Regions from separate parts of the Homo sapiens genome. Here regions 1 and 3 are each linked to region 2. Evidence: fine-mapped expression QTL. A gene starts in region 2. Each other region holds a variant in brackets. All regions are shown on one strand. Distances are between the middles of the regions. Region 1 overlaps GALNT12 (polypeptide N-acetylgalactosaminyltransferase 12). Region 2 holds the start of GALNT12 (polypeptide N-acetylgalactosaminyltransferase 12). Region 3 overlaps ANKS6 (ankyrin repeat and sterile alpha motif domain containing 6).

Evidence for each region. PIP is the estimated chance that this variant, and not a neighbour inherited with it, causes the effect.
Region 1: its variant is fine-mapped to the expression of GALNT12 in whole blood (TOPMed, PIP above 0.99). The same link has a PIP of 0.9 or more in blood mononuclear cells.
Region 3: its variant is fine-mapped to the expression of GALNT12 in whole blood (TOPMed, PIP above 0.99).

The regions. Positions count from the first base shown.
Region 1 is chr9:98,826,738-98,834,893 of GRCh38, forward strand. It overlaps GALNT12 (polypeptide N-acetylgalactosaminyltransferase 12), which reads left to right. Exons shown (of 10, transcript NM_024642.5): 3 at 15-204; 4 at 5,035-5,220. Among named protein-coding and RNA genes, the nearest start is that of GALNT12, 23 kb to the left of the region's middle. The variant A/G (reference allele first, on the strand shown) is at 4,975.
Region 2 is chr9:98,804,223-98,812,404 of GRCh38, forward strand. GALNT12 (polypeptide N-acetylgalactosaminyltransferase 12) reads left to right here and starts at 3,448. Exons shown (of 10, transcript NM_024642.5): 1 at 3,448-3,847. The coding sequence starts at 3,477. It overlaps LOC124902229 (a long non-coding RNA gene), which reads right to left and starts at 3,358. Exons shown (of 2, transcript XR_007061689.1): 1 at 2,549-3,358. RefSeq lists silencers at 3,330-3,419, 3,520-3,589.
Region 3 is chr9:98,751,329-98,759,510 of GRCh38, forward strand. ANKS6 (ankyrin repeat and sterile alpha motif domain containing 6) reads right to left here. Exons shown (of 15, transcript NM_173551.5): 12 at 5,092-5,275. Among named protein-coding and RNA genes, the nearest start is that of ANKS6, 41 kb to the right of the region's middle. The variant A/G (reference allele first, on the strand shown) is at 4,660.

The DNA of each region.
Region 1 (8,156 bases), 23 kb after region 2:
GTTTGCCTCCCTAGAGCACCTGAAGGAGCGCTTGGCCAATGAGCTTTCGGGACTGCCCAAGGTGCGCCTGATCCGCGCCAACAAGAGAGAGGGCCTGGTGCGAGCCCGGCTGCTGGGGGCGTCTGCGGCGAGGGGCGATGTTCTGACCTTCCTGGACTGTCACTGTGAGTGCCACGAAGGGTGGCTGGAGCCGCTGCTGCAGAGGTACGTGAGCCGCCCACCATGGGAGAGACAGCATGTTACCTGGAGTAGGTAGCATGAGGAACAGACTCATCACGTCACTTGAGGGTTAACGGGTTGCCTGGGCTCAGCTGCTTCTCTGTCACTGGGCAGGAGAGCAGTCCCTGCTTAGTTCGGCTGTTGAGACCGTTAAATGATTTAGTGCATGGCAAGTGCCTGGGAGTGCCAGCTGGAGAAGGCCCTGTGTCACTGTTTGCTTTTATTATTCCTTCTTTTTTCTTTTTATTTTTTGAGACAGAGTTTCACTCTTGTTGCCCAGGCTGGAGTGTAATGGTGTGATCTCGGCTCACCGCACCCTCTGCCTCCCGGGATCAAGCGATTCTCCTCCTCACTCCTCCTCAGCCTCCGGAGTAGCTGGGATTACAGGCATGCACCACCACACCTGGCTAATTTTATATTTTTTTGTAGAGATGGGGTTTCACTGCTTTGGTCAGGCTGGTCTCAAACTCCTGACCTCAAACTCCTGACGTCAGGCGTGAGCCACCACACCGGCCTTATTATTCCTTTTTATCCGGGCTTGTTGCAGAAAACCGAGGAAGTATCATCAACCAAGAACATTTTAAAAAATCCTCAGTCAAATAGAATGGCACTCCTAAAGAATACACATTTTGATGTATTTCTTTCAAGCAGGGCTGACTTAACCCTTACACCCAGGAGGAACAATGCCTAGGGCCCATGAAACTGGAAGGAACCCAGATAAATGTTATGAATTTCTTTTAAAATCAGAAGGGAAAAATGAATATCATAATAATGGGTATGTAATAATGAATCTAGCATGGATTGTATTTGTCTTTATACCAGTATAGTCATAAAATATGCTTTTTAATATGTCTGGTTGTTATAGAGGAAGGGTCCCTGAAAGTCATAATGTAACCCTGTTCTCAAGGCCATTGTCCTTGCTGTTCCACGGCATCTCACTCTCACCCTCCTACCTTCCCCCCTCAAGAAGCCACCATCTACTGGGGCCCACTTTTTGTTCCCTTCTGTCTCTTTCCTCCCCATGCTCTGCCTCGTCTCTCTGCCCTTTCTGTTTCTGCATCATAGAAGTCAGGAGCTGGGCTTGCCAACCAGAAGCTCCCCAGGTGGGAGAGGAAGGAAGGGATCTTTGCTTGGCCTCCCCGCTGTGGAGCAGGCAAAGGGCTGGAGGGGCAGGGTCTCTGCAGCTGGGGAACTGCTTCCCCGCAGATGCCAACTCCATGGTTGTTAGGGTTGTCTGAAAGAGCTGGGGACCCACTTGCCTTCCTTCCTGGGTGTGACCCAGCTGCCCCCTGCCCTGCCACTTCCTACTGTCCTGGCTTCTTGTCAGCTGCAGGTTCTATAGCTGTCTCTTTCTCCTCCTCAGCTCTGATGAGCTTTCCTAGCAGCAGATTCGAGGCTCCTCTGGCCTGTGATGGAGCTGGAGATTAGAGCACAGTTATGGCCGAGTGCTCCCTCTGGAACCCAGACCAATGGGCTCCCCTTCCTTCGTTCCCCCACTGCACTCATAGATGGCCACCTCTACACAGGTCTGAAATCATGGGGAGAGGACATTTCTTTCTCTGCAGCTGATGGATTAATGCTTTTAGAATTCCTCTTCATCCCACCCTTTGGACATGGGCCAGCCGCCTCCTTGCTGCATGCCTGTGGAAGAGGGGATTTTCCACCTCGGTTGTCTGTTAGAAATACCTGGGAAACTTTAAAAAATTTATATTTTAATTTTTAATTGTTGTGGGTAAATAGTAGGTGTATATATTTATGGGGTACATGAGATATTTTGATACAGGCATGCAATGCATAATAATCACATCAGAGGAAATGGGATATCCATCCCTTCAAGCATTTATCTTTGTGTTACTAATAATCCACTCATACTCTTTTTTTCTTTTTTTTTTAGACAGAGTCTCACTCTGTCACCCAGGCTGGAGGGCAGTGGCGTGATCTTGGCTCACTGCAACCTCCGCCTCCCAAGTTCAAGTGATTCTCCTGCCTCAGCTTCCTGAGTAGCTGGGACTACAGGTGCGTGCCACCGCACCTGGCTAGTTTTTGTATTTTTAGTAGGGACAGAGTTTCACGATGTTGGCCAGGCTGGTCTCGAACTCCTAACCTCAGTGATCCACCCACCTCAGCCTCCCAAAGTGCTGGGATTACAGGCGTGAGCCACTGCACCTGGCCCAGTCATACTCTTAGTAATTTTTTTTATCTATCTATCTATCTATCTATCTATCTATCTATCTATCTATCTATCTATCTGAGACAGAGTCTCGCTCTGTTGCCCAGGCTAGAGTACAGTAGGGTGATCTCGGCTCACTGCAGCCTCTGCCTCCCAGGTTCAAGTGATTCTCCTGGCTCAGCCTCCTGAGTAGCTGGGATTACAGGCATGCACTACCATGCCAGGCTAATTTTTGCATTTTTAGTAGAGATGGGGTTTCACCATGTTGGCCAGGCTGGTGTAAAACTCCTGACCTCAAGTGATTTGCCCGTCTCAGCCTTCCAAAGTGCTGGGATTACAGGCATGAACCACCACGCCCAGCCAGTTATTTTTAAATGTACAATTAAATTATTTTTTTTTTTTACTATAGTCACTCTGTTGTGCTAGCAACTGGTACGTCTTATTCATTCTTTCTATTTTTTTGTACCCATTAACCATCCCCACTCCCCCAACCAACTACCCTTCCCAGTCTCTGGTAACCATCCTTCTGCTCTCTGTCTCCATGAGTTCAATTGTTTTAAGTTTTAGCTCCCACAAATAAGTGAAAACATGCAAACTTTGTCTTTTTGTGCCTTGCTTATTTCACCTAACGTAATGACCTCCAGTTCCATCCATGTTGTTGCAAATGACAGCATCTCATTCTTTTTTACGGATGAATAGTACTCTATTGTGAGTATATGTACCACATATCCTTTATCCATTCATCTGTTGATGGACACTTCGGTTGCTTCCCAATCTTGGTTATTGTGAATAGTGCTGCAACAAACATGAGAGTGCAGATATATTTTCGATACACTGACTTCCTTTCTTTTGGATATGTACGTAGGAGTAGAATTGCAGGATCATATGGTAGCTCTATTTTTAGTTTTTTGAGGAACCTTCAAACTGTTCTCCATAGAGGTTGTACTAATTTACATTCCCACCAACGGTGTGTGAGGGTTCAACCTGGGGAGCTTTTTAAACACACCAATGCCTGGTCCCATTTGGATCTAACTCTTGGGGCTGGGGCCTCGGCTTCTGCATGTTTCAAAAGCTCCCCAGGGGACTTTGGTGTGCACGAGCATTGGGACACATCAGACTGTGGACTCTCCCTAAGGTGGCCCCAGACAGGAGTGGTAACCCTTTCCATCCAGGGGCTTTTGGAAATGTGGGAGGGTATTCTTGGTTGTCATGTCAACCAGGTAGGGCTCCTGGCATTTTGTGTATCAGGGAGGCCAAGTATCCTGCAGATCAGCCCTGTTCAGTGGAGAATGGTTCTGGCCCAGATGCCAATAGCATCCCTGTGGGTCCTGCACATTCTCCAGCCACGACTGGGAGTCCTATACTCCAATGCTGGTACAGCATTCCCCTAGTTTTCCCCTCCTTGTAAAAATTAGGCTTTCTGTGGTTCCAGCCAGCTTGATCACAAGCCATCAGTTCCTGGGGGAGCTGGCCTTTGCCAGGGGCCAGCTAGAACTTGCCCAGCAGGTCTGATGTTGGCCCTTTCAACCTTTTAAATAATGCCCTCAATTGCTTTAAATAAGCGGATGTTGGTGGATACCTAGTATGCAACTTCCTCAATTTGGGGAACTCACAGATCTAAGACCCTGTCTCACGCAACCTGTTCTGAACAGTGCAATTTCCCGATAGTTGTAATTCTTACCCCAGAGTGGTATTTCTAATATCCCCTCTGACTTTCTGGTGTCATTCTAAGGACACCGAAAGCTCAAGTCTGGTTGATCTCTGTTGCACTGTCCTGTGTGGCAGGACTCTTAGGATTTTTAGGTCTCAAATTCCAGACAACGTCCCCCAAAATGTACTCAAGGAAATCTAGTGTTCACACGTGGTCTAGTCTCAGTCCATCTTTCCTGGTGTAGTGGCAAATGCAAAGAAACACGGCCTGGAAGCATGCTGAGGGATGGCCAGATTTGTAATAATGTGGAGAGAACCGTTGAAGCCAACACACAGGCTGATACCTGCAAAAGGAAATTATAGCATTTTTCACTATATGTAATATTTCACAATAACAAACATTAAAATAAAAAAATAGCAATAGTTTCAGGTTCTCTGCCAGCTATCTTAAAAACATTTTCCCAGGAAGTCCTCACATTAACCCTCTGAATGGATATTATAATTCCAGTGTTACCACTGAGGCAATAGGCTCTGAAGTTAGGTGACTTGGCTAATGTCACACAACAAATAAATAGCAGGATTAGAATTTATATTCTAATTCCAAAGCTGACCCTTTGGTCTGGGTGCACCTTTGTTCTTAGGAGATAAGTATTTCTTGATGTTAAGGTGTTTCATTGTGATTAAACCTCTTGCACTTCTGAGAAATTGAAATCATAGAGCGTTTGGTCAGAATGTCCATGGATAGAATCAGAGCATATTAAAGTCATGGGACTTTTTGTTTTAAAGCCCTCCGTGGCCCCCAGATCTCCCCCATGGTGGTCACCTGCCAGGGCTCTGACACGGCTGCAGACACCTGGAATAAGAGAAGCAGGTCTTTCTCAGATGTTCCTCCCTCTTATTGGAAGGAAGACAAGAATTCACCCTTGAATTTCCCA[A/G]TTGTCTTCCTGCTGCCCGTCTGCATAGGAGAGACGGATGGATGTCTTGGGTGCTTTCAGGATCCATGAAGAGGAGTCGGCAGTGGTGTGCCCGGTGATTGATGTGATCGACTGGAACACCTTCGAATACCTGGGGAACTCCGGGGAGCCCCAGATCGGCGGTTTCGACTGGAGGCTGGTGTTCACGTGGCACACAGTTCCTGAGAGGGAGAGGATACGGATGCAATCCCCCGTCGATGTCATCAGGTCAGGAGCTGACTTCTGGGTGACTTGTTTTTTAAGCATGCCTCATTGAATCTGGCTGACCTGTGAGCGGAGGCCCTCGGGAGGAATGGTTAGCTGTCAGCTTAACTACCTCCCCTCTTCCCACTTTTTTGCCCAGAGTATTTGTTTATTTTTATTAAACGTGTCTGCTACACATGTCAATTTTATATCGGTATATTTTATTTATTTAATTTTTAAATTGTGGTAAAATATACATCATAGAGAATTTACCATTTTAACCATTTTGAAGTATGCAATTTTAGGCTGAGCATGGTGGCTCATGCCTATAATCCCAGTACTTTGGGAAGCCAAGGTGGGAGGATTGCTTGAGTCCAGGAGTTTGAGACCAGCCTGGGCAACATAGCAAGAACCTATCTCTACAAAAAAATAAAAATTAGCTGAGCATGCTAGTGTGTATCTGTAGGCCTAGCTAGCTGGAAGGCTGAGATAGGAGGATCGCTTGAGTCAAGGAGTTCAAGGCTTTAGTGAGCTATGATCACGCAATTGTACTGCAGCCGGGCGATAGAGTGACACCCTGTCTCTATAAAAAAATAAATAAATAAAACAAAGCATGCAATTTTAGTGGCATCGAGCACATTCACGGTATTGTGCAAACATGATCTTTACCTATTTCCAGGAATTTTTCATCATCCCACACAGAAAATATCCCCACTAAGCAATAACTTCCCATTCTCCCCTTCCCAGCCCCTGGGAACCTCTGTTCTTTCAGGCGCCCCATGTGAGTGGAATCATACAATATTTGTCCTTTTGTACTTGGCTTCTTTGACTTATCATCATGTTTTCAAGTTTCCTAGAGAACATCATTCCTTGTGATGGCTGAGTAATATTCCTTTGTACATATATGCTACATTTTGTTTATCCATTCTTCTGTTGGTGGACACTTGGGTTGTCCTTTGGTTATTGTTAAATAATGCTGCTATGAACATCGGTGTACTTTTATCTGCTTGAGTCCCTGTTTTCCATTCTTTTGGGTATACACCTAGGAGTGGGATTGCTGGTCATATGCTCATTCTTGAGGAAACATCTTTAGGCCCCTTTGACCTGGGGTGTGGGTGGATCCATGGCAGGTGGAGGAGTCTGCTCTGGCCAGTGGGTGAGTCAAGCTCTGAGTAGAATGGGCCCAAGGGAGGCTCAGCAGCTCTCATTCTGGAGGTTTTGAAGTGATAGCCTGGCTTCTTCCTCCCCTTCCAAGTTCAGAAGCAAGTGGGAGACAGATGTGGGAGTTGGGCAGGAGGAGGTCAGGACTTCAGCCTCACCGCTGGTGTGTTGAACCGGAAGTAGGCTCTGAGTTTTGCGTCCACATTTGGCAGTTGGGCTTCTGAATTCTTTCACCAGAGTCCTGACCTTAAGATGACCCGCTGCTGGCAGGAGTGGAGCAAGCAAGGAGAGTGTCCAGAGATAAGGCTGGAGAGATGGGCGGGGCCAAGGGAAGGGGTTTGGACTTGACCCTGAGCAGGTAGAAGCCACTGAAGGGATCGGAGCAGGAAGTGACCTGAGCATGTGCTGCGTGCCATGTGGTGAGGGCCCTGGGGGGACCGTTGTAGGCAGGGATACCATTAGGAGGCTCTGCAGTCTTCCAGGTCAGAAACAATGGTTCAGGAGATGGTGGGCACTGTGGATTCCAGAGATGTTAAGATGGAAGAATTGGAAGAAATTGAGTGGGAATTGGGGAAGGAAGGAATTAAGAATGGCACCCAGGCTTCTGTAGGAGCCCTTAGTGAGAACATCCTGCTCAATCCCTCACTGAATAGGTTTGGAAACTGAGACACAGAGCAGGAGGCTCTAATCTAGGCTACTTAGGCAGCCTGTCATGAATTCATGGGGGTCCATGAATTCTAATTGCCCCGTTACCCCACATGCTCAGGGCACCTATCCTCCCCATCCCATAATATCCCTGTGCCTCAGTTATCTCATCTGTATAATAGGTACCAGCATATCCACCCTGCTTATTTCCTAGATTTTTAGGATAAACACACGTGAAGGTGCTTTGTAGTCTAGAACCTTCCCTTCCACTGGGGATGTTGCTGTTGTCTTCTCAGTTGGCCCCATGCTTGGAGTCCAGGGCAGGCCCCGATGCTGCAGGATGTTAACATTTTCAGTGGTTGCGCTCTCAATGTTCTCTTTCCCTATTTTTTTTTTCAAGTTGGGGTCTCGCTTTGTCACCCAGGCTGGAGTGCAGTGGCATGATCTCAGCTCTCTGCAACCTCTGCCTCCTGGATTCAAGTGATTCTCCTGCCTCAGCCTCCTGAGTAGCTGGGATTATAGCTGTGGGCCACCACACCCAGCTAATTTTTGCATTTTTTTAGTAGAGACAGGTTTTCGCCATATTAACCAGGCTGGTCTTGAACTCCTGACCTCAGGAGATCTGCCCGCCTCAGCCTCCCAAAGTGCTGGGATTACAGGTATGAGCCACCGTGCCCAGCCCTTTCCCTATTTCTGAATTCATCCTTTTGCCTGTGCAACTCTGGGACGTGCTGACCTTACAGTGTTCTGCCGTGTAGGCTGGAAGCCGTGGGCCGTTTCTGGTTAGTGCTGGCTTCCAGATAAACCTGGTGGTGGGTGGCGGGAAACAAGGCTGGCTGAAAAAGCAGCCTGAGGCTGGCTAGCTGGGTCCTAGTGGAGGAAACCACTCAAGAGGACCTGGCCCTCGGGGCACTTTCAGATGCCAGAGTTGCCTTTAGGGCCTTCTGCATACTGGCCTCTGAGTGGCATCTGTGAGTGCCTGCCTTGTGAGATCACACCTCCTCAGATGACCATGGCCTGGAGCCTGCCTTCTTCTCGGAACGTGGTCTCTTGCTTCTCTCTTCTCCTTGCTCTCTATGCTTCTAAATGTCCCTGGATTTCTCCCACCCTTAAGCCTTTGCTCATGCTGGAGAACCATTCCATTTCCCTTCTTC
Region 2 (8,182 bases):
GAAATTTGGATTGTTTCCAACTTTTTGCTTTTATATACAATACTGCCATAAGCTTCCTTGTATGCATATCTTTTGAGCACTTACGAGTCTATGTTTGTTGGATAGATTCCTAGATGTGGAATTGCAAAATCAAAAAGATGTTAATATTAACATTTCTAATAAATGTTGCCTAATTGCTTTCCAAAAGGTTATACTAGTTTGCATTCCTACCAACAGTGGATGAGAGTGTTTTTTCACATCCTTGCCAACACTGGAATTAATAGCCATTTTCATTTTTGCCAGTCTGATAGGTGAAAAAATATTTCAGGGTAGGTTTATTTTGTATGTATTTTAGAGAGATCGAGCATATTTTCATACTTTTATAAACTATTTATATCCTTTTGGGTGGGAACTGTCTATTTAAATCCTTTGACCATTTTTATTTCTGTTTGTTCTCTTTATTTCCCTATTGATTCACATACTGGGTAAATGTCATCTGCAAATATCTCTTTCTGACTTGCCTTTTGTTTCTGGACTTTGTATTATACTGGAAGCCTTACAGAATTCAAAATTTTTATATAGTCACATTTAGAAATATTTTCCATATGGTCTCTGGTTTTTCTCATTCAATACTTTTATAATTAAATTCCTTCCCTTCCCTTCCTTCCTTCCTTCCTTTTTTTGCTTATTTACTGTGGCATCTTCAGATCATTTGGAATTTATTTTGATGTAAAGTGTGATGTTGGGACTTGATTTGAATTTTTTCCAAATGGTTATCAAGTTGTCCCAATTATTACTTGAATTAGGCACATGTTCCCCACTAATATTTGAAATACCACATCTACCATAGATCATATTAAACTCTAAAAGGAATGTAATAACTCCTATGAAGAGAGCTAATATGACAAATTAAAAGCATCTTCTAGAGATATCTACTTGTTGGTGAGCAGCCGATGACATAACATGGTACTGTTAGTGAACAGATAAGCCCCCTAAAAATAGCAATAAACCCAAGGGCTTTACCTCTGTTGAAAAGATGCTAGATTTCCAACAAGCTCCCAGGTGGTACCAATGCTTCTGGTCTAAATATCATACTTCACTCAGCAAGGTGCTGGACATCTTCCCTTTGCCTTACTGACACTCTCTCCACTCTGTTTTGTGCCCCGGGAGGCTGACTGTGCAGACTGTATCACTCAATCTTCTCAACAACCCTGTTCAGGTGGTGCTATCATTAGATCACCATTTAATAGATGAGCAAATTGAGCCGAGATAAGTAAAGCAACTTGCCTGAGGTCACACTGCAATTCGTGATGGGGCTGGGTTGAGCTCAGGCAAGTGGGCTCCAAGGTTGTGTTCCGACCTCCTAAGCTAAGCTGCCTTTGCATCTCATTGCAGCCTGCCCAACAGTGAGTGGTGTGGTGGGAAATCCTGGACTGTGAGTCAGGAGACCCAGATACAAATCCTCCCTCTACCGCTTGCATGTTGTGTAACCTTGGGCAAGTTGCTTCACTTCTTGAGCCTACATATTCTCATCTGTCAACCTTGCAAGGTTGTCATAGGGTGAAATGAGAAAGTACATGAAAAAGAAAGTCCAGCAGTTTACAGCACACAGTGTGTGCTCAGTAAACAATAGCTTTTATCTGTTACCTGGGGCTTAAGTCCATGTCTTGTAAGGCCTAATTGCATTTCTCTTTTCTCTGTATCTGAACCTCTATTGAGAAGCATTCCAATTTGGCAAGCGGATCCAAGACATTATGAATTGTAATCCTTGTCTGTTTTCTAATCTGACCGCAGATCTTAAATGTGTTGGGTGTCTGAACAGAGGCCAAAGGGCTCAGGTCCAGACCTACCTAACACAACCGCCTTCTGGCATTAACCAGCAGCCTCCATTCTGCGTGGGAAGCAGGCGGGGCCCTGAGCACTGTGGGAAGAGCCACTTCCCTCTAGTCTAATATTAGCAGCAGGTTGTCCTGAGTGGGAGCTGCTTTGCATGGTTCATCCCAAAACCCACCCCCCTCCTGCAACCTGAGGGAGATTTCCTCTGGGGATACCAGTAGCCAAAGGCTGTATGAAGACAACAGCAAGTCAGATTCTACCTCTACCTGAGCCGCCAAGTTCAAGGTCCTCTCCCCACCCTGTGTCTCAGACCCCGCATTTATCAATGAGATAATTGGACCAGATTTGTGCTTTTTAAACTTTCTGGGCTTCTGGTCTCCTTGAGAATATTTGATAAAAAGCTTTGGACCAACTTCCCATGGTAAAACAAACAACAACAAATAGAGCTTACACTCTATCCTTCTACAGGGGATACAGAATGATTCTTTTCCCTGAGCTAGACACCAGCAGAGGGAGTTCCAGATTAATTTAAGATATGATTTGAAATCTCTGCTATCACTTTTACATTCAGATATCTGTGTAGACATTACTTCATCAGAGAAGCTTTCCAAAACCCCCAAACTAGATCAAGTTCTACTATTCTAAGCCCTTTTAGCGCCCTGTAATTCTTCTTCAAAATACTTAACACAATTCTAATTATCTTTTTAATATTTGTCTACTCCATTAGACTTACTTCGTCCCTGGCAGCTCAAGGCTCCCACAGCAGTGATCTCATGAACAGGGCGGCAGCTTCATGGCCTTTTTTGGTTGTTGTTTAATAGAAACAGGATCTCGCTTTGTCATCCAGGCTGCAGCGCAGTGGCGCATAGTTCACGGTAACCTCCAATTCCTGGGCTCACACAATCCTCCTGCTTCAGCATCCTGAGTAGCTGGCACTATAGGCACGTGCCACCATGCATGGCTAATTCTGAAATTTTTCTGTAGAGATGGGAGTCTTGCTATGTTGACCAGTCTCGTTTTAAGCTCCTGGCTTCAAGTGATCCTCCTATCTCGGCCTGGGATTACAGGTGTGAACTATCATGTACAGCCTTCATGGCCTTTTGCTCCTAGCCTCAGAGGTCACAGAGCTATCACGAGGCGAGCCAGGCGAGGGTTTGCTATTCAAGGACTCCAAAGAGTATGGCAGAGGCTGGGCCTGCAGAAGTCAGTGGGGCAGCGTGGTGTCTGTTGATCTCATCGCACCTCCATCTCCTCATCTGTAAAAGGGAGCTCGTAATCCTAGTTGATGGTTGTTTTATTGGACTGTGTAAAGATCAGATGAGATAATGGCAGTAGAATTCATAACACCCTGCAGGGTGTATTCAGCCAACACTTAGCGCCTACAATATGCCAGGCGCTAAGGGTTTTACCACCACTATCTCTTTAATAATGCACCATAGCCCAAGAAGGAAGATGCAAGTCTCAGCCAGCCCACTTGAAGACCCTGCCGAAATGAGCCACCCCGGGGGCTGCGCTTGGGCTGGCGCGGGGCTGGACGGAAAGGGGGCGGCGCGCAGGTGGGGCGGGCCGGGGGCGGGGCGGCACGGCGGTTCCGGGATCCGGGTCCTGGCCTCCACCGCCGCCTTGGGGCGCGCAGATCGCTGGCTGCAGTTGGCGGGCGCATGTGGGGGCGCACGGCGCGGCGGCGCTGCCCGCGGGAACTGCGGCGCGGCCGGGAGGCGCTGTTGGTGCTCCTGGCGCTACTGGCGTTGGCCGGGCTGGGCTCGGTGCTGCGGGCGCAGCGTGGGGCCGGGGCCGGGGCTGCCGAGCCGGGACCCCCGCGCACCCCGCGCCCCGGGCGGCGCGAGCCGGTCATGCCGCGGCCGCCGGTGCCGGCGAACGCGCTGGGCGCGCGGGGCGAGGCGGTGCGGCTGCAGCTGCAGGGCGAGGAGCTGCGGCTGCAGGAGGAGAGCGTGCGGCTGCACCAGATTAACATCTACCTCAGCGACCGCATCTCACTGCACCGCCGCCTGCCCGAGCGCTGGAACCCGCTGTGAGTGCACAGCTCTGGGGAGGAAGCCCGCCCTCAGAGCCCCGGGCCTCAGTTTCTCCATCAGAGCAGTGGCAGGGCGGGGAGCTGGGGTCTCCAGGATGGCGCGTCTTATTGAGTCTTTCTCCGAAGACGATAGTGTAAGAGCTCACATGGGGGCGGGGAGGCAAGAAAGTAAAAAAGACGAAAGTAGAAAAAAAATTACCAGAAATTGGCAAGTCTGTTAGTGATCTCTTAGCTCCCTTCTCCTTGAGAAGTTATCATCTCCCTGAAAAGGTGAGGGTCAGGGCTAAGCAGAAGGGTTTAAGGCGAGGACCCCCCAGCACCCAAAGGACAACCCCGCTCTGCCCGCCTCGCAGTGCCTCCGCGAAACTGACAACTCCTCCGGGCGGTGACCGGCTCCATTCATTCTCTGTGTGTGCCAGGGCCTAAGGGACAAACAAGATGCGAGGGAGCGCCCCACAGGTGAAGCGAAAGATGGCTGTAAGGCCCCCTCAGCGCTAGAAAGCCTCCTTGTGCTCTCCCTGGGCATTGGATTTCTGAGCTTTGGGTGGAGGAAGGCGGGAAGGGGCACGGGGTGGGAAGGGCTCCTTCTGGCCGTGATCCACCCCAGCTCACTCCTGTGGGTGGTGCTGGACTGGAGCCAGCGTGGTCAGAGGCCTAGTTCCTGTTGGAGCTACTGGCTGGGCAGGTTGCGCCCCTGCCTAGGTGGGGATCCAGGGCACACGCTGGCAGCAGGAGGAAGGACAGGTGGCTGCTGCCACCTTTGCCGCTGGGCCTCCCGGGCTCTCACTTTTTCTTCGAAGTGTCAGGGATCTTCCAAGTCCTTTTTTGAGCCCCTTCCTTACAGACTTTGAGGAAAAGAGGACTCAGAGAGGGGGTTCCCATTGGAGCTGGTGGTGGCAGCCTGCCGTGTGCACCAGGCACCTGCCACTCCTCTCCCCTTCAAGCCATTCCTGCTTTACAGGTGTGGAAATAGGTTCGGAAAGGATAGGTGACCCACCCAAGGCCCCTCAGCTGGAATGTGGTAGGACTGGTCTGGAGGGACTATGGCCCTTCTGGCCCACTTGGCACCATGCTGATCTCAGGATTTTAGGGGCCTGCTCCATGGTACCTTGGCCAGAGAGACCATGAATGATGGAATGAGGATGCCCCACCTCTGCCCCACTGTTTCCACTGTCTTCCCTGTTTTGGGGATCTCCTCATGCCTAGCCTCATGCTTCTGCCTGAGGCATTTTTCACTGTTAGTCTTTTTGAATAAAACTTTGTTGGGATTGATAGTAGTTCCTCCACTCACCAGCCTAACGCATGTTTAGCTCCTCGAAACCCCGAGGGTGCCCGCTGAGGCAAGGTGGAGGGGAAGCTTTCAGGTTATACCCAGCTTCAGATTAAATCCAGCCCAGGGGAGATAAAATCCTGGTTCTTTTGCTCGTCACTTCTGTGATCTCTGGCAAGCTGCTTAGCCTCTCAGAGCCTTGGTTTCCCTTCGTTTGCGAAATAGGAAACTCATAAAAGTGAGTCTCCATGCATTCTACATAAAAGTGAGTGGAAAGAACACAACTTAGGAATTAATAAAGCATCAATACCTGGGAGCACACTGTGTGCTTAAATCTTAGTTTTTTCACCTTTCCCTGTTGCCAAGAATGTACTCAAGAGGTTGCTTTTGAGAGTCATCCAGGGATTGGTTGTAGTTTTTCTTTCCTGGATCCAACTTCCTTTATTGTCGCAGGTTGTGAATATCTCTTTGAAACACTGTGGACAATCTGTGGGGCTTATGGTAACCTGTCTCCATGGTGACGCAGCTGCCCTGTGTCCTCTCAGGATTTGCTTGTAGATCCTGCTGTTGCATTGACCCTGGAAGTTAAGCCAAACCCAGCATGATAAGGAGTGTGAATGCCTCCTGCTTCTAATTCCTGCAGCAAGGCCTGTTGGGTTATTCTTACCCAGCCAGAGAGAAAGGTGAGCCTGAGCTGTGTGGGTCTCTGTTGGGCCAGGCTTTGAGATGTAACTTCAGAGTGGTCAGTAGGGTCAGGGTATTTTGTGGCATCTCACTTTTATTACAGTTCATCCAGGAGCTAATCAGGGTCTTGAGATTTTGCCTGAGAAACCTGAATGGCAGATCATAAGTTCACAGTGTGGGTATGGGGTTCTCTGCGAGTCTAATAAACAGAGGGATAATGAGGGTCCTTGAATGTTGCAGGAGGGAGGGCCCTGAGGGAGGAGCATCTAGTCTAACCAGAGAGGAAAAGCCACACCCCCAGGTCACATAGCACATCTCAGGCAGAGCCACAGTCCATATCTGTTACTCGTTCCTCCCTTTTTGGGTGGGGATGATTATTTCTATGTTTATTTTAATTATGAAAGCAATGCATATTCACTCTAGAAATGTTGGCATGCACAGAGAAACAGAAAAGGAAAAAAATGAAAATCCCCAATAAACCTACCACTCAGGGAGAACCATTGTTAACATTTTGCTGTGCCTCCTAGACTTTTAATGAAAGTCTTTACTCTGCAGTGCCTTTTATCAGAGGAAAGGAGTTGGGAATGACTAAGGGACCACTTGGTTTGACTCTTCCTGGTGTCAGCAGGGTGTGGCACTGTGTCTGCCTTCTTGAAGAAGGCCAGACCACTAAAAAGACATTTTAGAGTACTGGTCCTAATTCTGTGAGAGCCAGTATAGACCTGGGCCCCTCTATGAATCTAATAATTTACATGCCAGTGGATTCGAGTATAGTTTTGTTAGTTACAGCACTGAATTGAAGAGGAGGCTAATGATGACTAGGAATCCTTCCTTGCATGGTAACATAGTAAGTATTAATATATATTAATATAAATAAGTATAGTAAGTAAGTCAGTAAGCATAGTAGTATAGTATGACTAGCATCTCAGCAAAGAAGGTGAATTTTTACTCTGAGATGATAGCGGGTCAAAGTGGGGAGACAGATAGTTGGGTGTGTGGCCCTGGGGAACTTTAAAAAATATATTGATGCCAGGAATCTTCCCCAAAACAATGAAATCAGAATATCTGTGGCTAGGACCTAGGCTGAATCTGATATGCAACCACGGGTGAAAGCTACTGGCCTAGAGCCTGTGGATTTCTGAGTCAGAAGATTTAGGGTGAGTGTTTTGGAGGGTGTGGAGAATACCAGAACTAGAGAAAGTAAGGATTAATAACAGGTCAAATGTAGTTCAAGCCAGTGATGACATCATAGTCAACTGAGTGGTGTGTCACAAGGAAATGGTTATTAGTAATGTTGTACCAAAATTTGCAAAAAGTTTTAGTTTCCATAGAATACGGGGAACTTGAGATGATCACTGTAACATCATTCTCATTTGCATTCTGATATTTAGTAGAAGAGAGAGTGGAGTAACAGACAGTGCCCTCAGGGCTGGACATTTCTTCAGGTCTATCTATGACAGGAATCCCATATGTGTGAACACCAGCCATTCTCTACCAGGGCAGAAGAACTGTGAACCATTGGTCAAGGAAAGCATGGTGTTTTTATTTCTTGACTTGCTCTGGTTTTAGGCTTGTTAATACTATAATTGCAGATGTGTGTCTGAGTTCAGGGGTCAGGATTTGGGTGCTGGGATGGCAAAGAGTCTCGAAGTCGTTCTTTTTTTTTTTTTTTTTGAGATGGAGTCTTGCTATGTTGCCCAGGCTGGAGTACAATGGTGCGATCTTGGCTCACTGCAACCTCCACCTCCTGGGTTCAAGCCATTCTCCTGCCTCAGCCTCCCGAGTAGCTGGGATTATAGGCAAGCGCCACCACACCCAGCTAATTTTTGTATTTTTAGTAGACACGGGGTTTCACTATGTTGGCCAGGCTGGTCTCAGACTCCTGACCTCAGGAGATCTGCCCGTGTTGGCCTCCCAAAGTGCTGGGATTATAGGCGTGAGCCACCATGCCCAGCCTCAAAGTGGTTCTAAACAGGTAATTAAGCAAAAGTATGTCTTGCTAGGGTTGCAGAAGGGAGTAGGACATTAGACTGATGTTTATTTTGTTTCCCCAACAAAGTTGTGGATATTTTATGAATTCTTATTAGATCCATCTTGAGAACATCAGAGTGGCATTCTTTCTTGAGTCAGTACTCCAGTACTTCAAATCCACAGAACATGTTCAATTTCGGTTAGTATTTTCCTGATACCTTTTTCTTTCACTCATTCTGTGTCCATATGTTTTTGGTGTGTCTTTGAATAGTATGTTGCTCGATTTTGTGTTGTCATTAAAAAAAAATCCAGGCCAGGAGTGGTGGCTCACGCCTATAATCTCAACACTTTGGAAGGCCGAGGTGGGTGGATCACTTGAGGTCAGGAGTTCGAGATTAGCCTGGCCA
Region 3 (8,182 bases), 53 kb before region 2:
CAGGCTGTGAAGACACAGAGAGTCTGGGCCAGGACTGACTGATTCCCTCCAGACTGCGACCCTCAAGTTCTGGAAGTTCCAGCTGCCAGAACTAAAACTCTGCCTTCTGTGTGAGAAAGCACCATAAATGCCAATGCCTGCAGTAAATGCCAATGCCAGCAAGTCCTTAGCTAGTGTGAGGAAGAACTTAAGAAAGAAGATGGTGGGCTTCAGACCAGAACCAGGGTTTGGCTCAAGTGTGCAGAGGCTGTGGCCTTCCTGAAGGAAAAAGGCATCTATGTGGAACAGCAGAGCCACAAGGGCACAAGAAGATGATTTGGGGTGTCAGAACAGGGAGAATAAAGAAAAGGAGACAAAACCAGCACCTGAGGGGCTTGGAGAAATATTTACTCACACATTCAATAGGGATTTGCCAAACTAGGAACTGGGGACTCAATAGATACCAAAACAGACAATAAGAAGGCTGACAGAGGCCGGGCAGGTCGTGCATGCCTGTAATCCCAGGATCTTGGGAGGCCAAGGATGAAGGATCACTTGAGGCCAAAAGTTCAAAACCAGGCCTGGCACTATAATGAGATTTCATCTCTACAAAAAATTTAGAAGTAATTAGCCAGGAGGTGTGATGTGTGTGCCTGTAGTCCCAGCAACTCGGGAGGCTGAAGCAAGAGGATCACTTGTGCCCAGGAGTTTGAGGCCACAGTGAGCTGCAATTATGCCACTACACCATTGCACTCCAGCCTGGGCTACAAAGCAAGACCCTGTCACAAACAAACAAACAAACAAACAAACAAAGGCTGATAGGCAAGACAGCAAGGAAGAAGAGAGCAGCATCAAGGTAAATGACAGCATTTCCAGTTTTACAAACGCTGTTTTACAGAAGATGGTCACGGAAAGACTCTCCTATAAGGTGATCTATGAGCAGTAAATGAAGGAGTGAGCTATGCAGATATCTGGAGTAAGAGCATTAGGCAGCATCCAGACAGGGAAGAGCAGGTGTAAAGGTTGTGAGGCAGTGCATGCAGCTTAAAGAAGTGATTAGGAGGCTTAGGTTCCTTCTTTTTTTAACTCATTCATTCAACCAACCTTCCTTCCCTCCTTCCCTCCCTCTTTCCCTTCCTTCCTTCCTTCCTTCCAGCAGTGACTACCACTGTGCCCAATGGACACTAGGTAGCAAGGATGGAGAGGTCCCTGTCATGAAGCTCAGTGTGGCTGGGAGGATAGGATGAGGAGGATGAAAGCTAATACACAGTGCTATCAGCCAGCCTGTACATGGATGACCCACTTGCTCTTTACAACACCAATGAGGTAGATCCTATTACTGTCCCCATTTACAGATGAGAAACTGAGGCACAGAAAGGCTTGATACCACATCTTGGGTGAGGTCATCCTGCTAGTCCGTGGCAAAGCAGGGACTCAAGCCCAGTGGTCTAGCTACCAGGCCTGTGCTAGGCGCCCACTCTCCACTTTTCTCATGGGTGGTGCATGCTATGGTGAAGAGCAACAACAGGGGGATGTGGGGACAGAGAGAACAGCTGACCCAGCCCAAGGTACTAGGGAAAGCTTCACAGTAGAGAGGCTACTGAGCGAGGATGTATGAGACAAATCAAATCCCAATCCACACATAATCTGTTGTATTTCATGACACCAAACCTTTGCTCCTGCTGTTCCCTACACATGCAGCCTTGGTCCACAGTGGTGTGCTGGTAAATGTTTAACAACTGGTTCTCGGGGGAAGGTGTATGCATGTATATAGGCACATAAATCTATTGCAGATTTACTGATATAAAGGATTTATAGCACACAATTTACAAATAATAAAAAATACAATATTCTTTCTTATAAATTCCATATAGCCAATTGATTCTCACCAAATGCTTTCATTTGTTTTTGCCCTACTCTTGTACCCACAGCCAAGGAGTATGGTTCCAACATGAACACTGGCTGAGAGTTTTGTTTACATGAACAAGAAACATAAAAAAGAAACAACAAAGACTTACGTTGGAACTTCAGGTGAGCAACTTGGCTGAATCAGATAATGGTTTTCAAATACTGGAAGAGTATTTTCTCAATTTTTTGTGCTACTCACAAGATAACGGTTACAGATACAACCTACTTTTAAGTTTAATCCTCATTGTTAACATTTTCCCATCACTGCCTAGATTACATGTAGACAATATCTATAAGACAACAAATCAAGCCCCGGATTGCTTGAGACCAGGGAGGTTGAGGCTGCAGTGAGCTGTGATCACACCACTGTACCCCAGCCTGGGTGACAGAGTAAGACCCTATCTCAAAAAAAAAAAAAGCAAGCCCTGATTGATGGTGTTTGCCAATTTCCATGGTGTAAATACCCCCATCATAGCCAATTTCAACCTACCAATCTAATGCCCCTGAAAGTGAAGCTGAGCAGAGATGCGCAGTAGGAACACATCATTACGGGGTATTCACACTGCAGGTATGAGATATACACAACCTCAAGAGCACAGATAATAAAATATACAAAAATGAGTAAAAAATACATTTTAAGTACAATATACTGTTATATTTCTATAATTCAGTTAATTCGAAGTTCATGTAATTTGTAAATAATGGTTGTGTTTAACAACCAGCTTGGGCATGTCCTATAAACTGAACAGTCGGCTCTGGCACCCCACTGCCCATCTCTTCCCAGTGTCGTGGTCCAGCTGGAGTGCCCGCTCACCAGGGGAGCCTACCATGGCACATGGTGCTTTGCTGATAACAGGTATGACCTCACCTTGTGTTACACTCTAATGTCATTATGTTGAATGTGTCTGTATCCCTGTGAGTTCCCCTGGGTGCATAGGTTAGGGCATCCAGGGGACTGCCCAAGAAAATTTCCTGGAACAAATGTGAGGCTGAGAAGGTGATGCTGTCACCAGCCTTGCTGCTTCAACAGGTGGAGTCCAGAGAGGAGGAATGCAGATGGAGACATGAGGCAGGGAAAAGCTCACGTGTCCTTGACTGGGACCAAATATTTCCCAGAAGAATATAATAAAAATAGCTCTTTGGGGGCCGGGCGTGGTGGCTCACACCTGTAATCCAAGCACTTTGGGAGGCCGAGGCGGGCGGATCACGAGGTCAGGAGATCGAGACCATCCTGGCTAACACGGTGAAACCCCGTCTCTACTAATAATACAAAATAATTAGCCAGGCGTGGTGGCGGGCACCTGAGGTCCCAGCTACTTGGCAGGCTGAGGCAGGAGAATGGTGTGAACCCGGGAGGAGGAGCTTGCAGTGAGCCGAGATCGCGCCACTGCACTCCAGCATGGGTGACAGAGCAAGCCTCCGTCTCAAAAAAAAAAAAGCTCTTCGGGGATGGATTGCAGCCCCCGGCCTATAACAATCATATACCCACAGGACAAAGGGCTCGCTGCCTCAGGACCCAGGAACTCTCAACAGGAAAACTAAGCTTTATGAACCAGAGAAATTATTCTACAAAGAAAGTGCTATTGGCCCTCTTCTTTTTTCATCCCAATTAGGACTCTGCAAACCATTTTTAATAATGAACAAGAGGGAAAGAGAGTGGGTACAAACAGTCCATACAGACATCCACTGTCTCCACTCTTTTTTGGAAAACAATGGGGCACAAATACCTAACTGAATCTCTAGGGGCTTCAATTCCTGAAAACCTCAGAGGTGGGAGAATTCACGAGTGTGGAACTCAAGACTCCACATAGAAAATATGGTTGGGGAGGAATGAGTTTGCTGGTGAATCTCTGAGGCCTTGATAAATGATCACACTGGATATCACAAAACAATAAAAGCAGCCCCCAAATAAGGAGGACACCAGTGGCAGCATGCATTTATCAACTTAGTACAGACTAGAGCCTGTGCAAGTGATTCCAACTTATCTTGCTCAGCAGAACCTGCTCAGCACCCTACTCCTCAGCAGCTGCAGCGAACTGCCCGCAAACGCATTTGTGAGGGCCACGAACACAATCAGATTTTCCTCCCTGCTGACTTATACTCCTCGATTTGCACCTGCCTGGACCCCAGGTCTCACCAAAGCTTCCTCCCTCTTTCCCCCATCCCAGCTCCTACAGGCCTCTAGAGGGCAGTTTAAAAGGATGGGATTCCTTTCTTCATCTGCCTTTATCTTTCCTGGGGCCTGACTGCAAAGCCTCTGCTCCTGCCCTACCACCCACTCCATCTTCCCTCATCATTCCCGCATGGGGGCTGCAGAGGCTGTAATTCACAAGGCAGGTTCCAAGGCTCTCCTGGTTGCAGCAGACATCAACTGCTTTTGCTTGCCCTCACCCATCCCCCTTCTCCTGGAAACAGTATTTCCAAATTTTCCTTTGAGGAACTATTTCTCTCCCACTTCCAATACACATATGTCAGTAGGTTGGACCCCAACTCCGCTCCAAAGCAGACAACTGACCGAAGGGGCATGGCCAATCACCACATTCCACCCCTGTGGACACAGAGATAGTCAAGGGAGGGCAACTGACCTAGGTCATTATAAATACAGCCAAGCCAATGGCCTTTACACTTGGGATTTTGCTGGACCTACTGAGAAAGTAGCACTCGTTCTGCTGGAGTTGAAAAATTGGTGGGAAGACAAAAGTATGCCTGAAGCTGCTTGCCACCACTTGGAGAGAACCTACCTGAGACCTGGAAACACTCCCAAAGCACCTG[A/G]ATTCAGGCATGGTTGAAGCACACCCTAGACACTCCCATCATATGAGCCAATGAAATGTCAGGTTTCATTTTTTTCCCTTGAACCAGTGTGAGTGGAGTTTCTCTCACTCACAACTGAAAGAATCCTGACAGGTACAGGGTCCAGGGAAAGTAAGTTCGTGTTGGAGAAGCACTTCCATGGGTGTATGTTTGTGCATGTAAACAAAAATCACCTATACTCAAAAACTCTTTGAGGGAGCTTACCATACCTTTAGCATAGTGAAGACAAAAATACAAGGTACAATCAGAGAAGAGGAGGGACATGTTTGTCGTAAATCTTCTTAAAACCTGACCTAGGATGGTTATAGCAATTAAGGTCACCTTGCAGTTCCTTGCTGCCAGGTCATCATGGTGAGAGGAATAGGTGGGGTTTCAGGCCCTCAGGGGACTCACCCTCATCTGTGATGGTGCCACTGCTGGAGCCCCCACTGCTCTTGGACTGCCGATGGGATGACGAGGAAGACACTGAGGACTCTGCAGTGTGCCCTTTGGGTGAGGGGGAGGGCGTGAGGGTTGGAGAGGTGCTCTTGGAGGTAGTGGAAGTTCCAGATGGAGGCCTTTTGCTGGTCTCCAATTTCTGCTGAACAGAGTAAGACAAATACATAAGCCATCACCTGTAGGGTAGAAATGAGGAAAACAAGACACCCACAACAGGGAACATGGGTGGTATTTGATTCAACATGATGTTTAACCAAGACTATGAAATCTACTTTTAAAAACATGGAAAGCAGAAATATCATTATCAGAACAATTAGAGGAAAATGCAACCCTGGAGCAGAGATAGGATAAGATCAAATAGCTGCATATTATGAGTCAGGAACCACCCCGCTCCCCACCCCGCCCCGCTCCCCCAATCCCAGTCCTGCCCTCCAGCTACTTGCATTGTGGCTTTGGCCAAGCCCCCCGAGCTCTCTGGGCCTCAGTTAACCAGCTGTAAAATGAAAGTCTGGCTTAGGGAGGCACAAAGTCTCTTTCTGCTCTTGATGCTCCTTCATCTACACCAAAGAACACGTATTCTTCCCTTTTTCTCATTGGTTAGCTTTAAAACAAAGGCTTTTTACATTAAAATAATTCTAGACGTATAGAAGAGCTGCACAGAGAGAACAGAGTTCCCACATACCCCTCACACAGCTTCCTGATATTAATATCTACATCGTCACAGTATAATGATCAAAACTAACAAGCTGACATTGACACAACACTATTAACTAAACTACAGACTTCACTCTGTTTCCCTGGCTGTTTTGCTTATGTCCTTATGCTGGTCCAAGATCTGATCCAGGAACCCACACTGCATGGAGCTGTGCTGTATCTCTGTAGGCTCCTCTGACCTGTGACAGCGCTGTCTTTCCTTGTCTTTCATGACCCTGACACTTGGGAAATCTTGGTCAGGTATTTTGAAGAATGCACATCATTTTGGGATTATCTTAAGTTTTCCCATAATTAGATGTGCTTGTGAATGTAGGGGGCAATGAAGTGATATGCCCATTCAGTGCATCGTTATGCAGAGAGGACACAGTATCTGATTACTGGTGATGGTAACCTTCATCACTTACATGAGGGGATGTCTGCTGGGTTTCTCCATTATAAAGTCACTATTTTTCTTTTTAATATTATTTGGGCTGGGCATGGTGGCTCATGCCTGTAATCCCAGCACTTTGGGAGGCTGAGGCAGGTGGATCACAAGGTCAAGAGTTCAAGAGCAGCCTAGCCAATATGGTGAAACCCCATCTCTACTAAAAAATACAAAAATTAGCCAAGTGTGGTGGTGGGTGCCTGTAGTCCTAGCTACTTGGGAGGCTGAGGCAGGAGAATCACTTGAACCCGGGAGGCAGAGGTTGCAGTGAGCCGAGATCGCACCACTGCACTCCAGCCTGGGTGACAAAGCGAGACTCTGTCTCAAAATAAATAAATAAATAAATAAATAAATATACAAAATAAAATATCCTTTGGGAGAAGTTTTTGGGTAAATATTTATTAAGGTTCTGCCCATTAACTTTGCATTCATTGGTGAGTCTCACTGAGGCAAGTGTTACAGTGGTGTTCCCATGGTGATTTTCTATTGCCCTCCTTCCTTCCACATTTATTATCTGTAATACTTCTATAAGGAAGAGTTGTTCTTTCTCTCCTATTTATTTGCTCAATCATTTATTCCTATCAGTACAGGCTCATGGGTATTTTTTAAGCTCTGGGCCATAATCCAATATTACTGTTATTTTGTAGCTCATTATTACAGCTTTGGCCATTGTGAGATCTTTCGGGTTGGCTCCTGTACCCTTTTGACATGCGCCATCTTTCTTTTTTTTTTTTTTTGTCTTTCTTTTTAAAAGTATTTGCCTACTTTCTGACACCACAAAATATTCTAAGCTCATCTTATGTTTCTGCTGACCCAGTACTAGAATAAAACACTTCTCCAAAGCTTTCCAAGGTCCCTTTTATTAGAGAATGGTATTTAGAAACCAAAATCTGGGTACTAGGTTGCTCACTGGTACTGGGATGTCACTGCTTCTAGGTCCTCAAAGTGGACAGAGCAAAGACATATATACACTAACCGATGTATACACACATAGCCATATCTACTTTTATATCTACTAACTCTGTGTGTGTGCAACTCTCTGTGTATTTAAAAGCATGCACTCATACTGATTCATACCGATACCTCTGACTTCAACCCAACATCCACAGAGTTTGTTCTAGCATTTTTCCTTTGATTCTGTCTCTGACAGTAAAAACTTTGCTACTTATTTATTCAATCCTGGTATATATGTTAAGTGTACATGTACACAAAAAAATTTTTAGCCCATATCCTGGTAAGGATAACAGAATTGTTAGCCCATATCCTGGTAAGAAAAAAAATATCAACTAGAGTACAGTACTTGTATACAGTACTTTTTGTCTTTAGCCTAATATCCACTCAACATACGATTTTCTCCTCCACCTCCTACAATGTGGTTAGGTCATTCATTTGAATACACTTAGATCTTCTGTCATAGTTTGCATTCTATCTTTGGTTCCTGGTTGATTTTGTTTTTTTTAATTTGCATACAGTAAAAAATAGCTCTGTTGTACACAATTCCATGGGATCTGAAAAACACATAGTGTTATGTATCCACCAAGAGGGTACCATACAGAAGAGTTCCATCATCCTCTGAATGTCCTTAAGTGGTCCTTTTCTAGCTAATCCCTCCTCCTAATCCCAAGCCATAAAAACAGCGCTCTATGTTCCATCCTGTGACTAGAGACAAAAAAATAAACTATTTTTCCTCTATTCTTACCCCACAACAATCAACACAGAATGTGTCTGTAACCAAAGGTATGGAGCTTTCTTCCCCTACACACCAATCAATTAATCAGTTCTGCAGTGGACACCAGCTAAGTATCCTCCAATTCAAGTCTGACATGATCTATCCAAACACAGCATCAAATCCCACAGGTTGAGGGCTCAGTCCCAGGAGACTGCCCCCACTTCAGATGCCAACTGAAA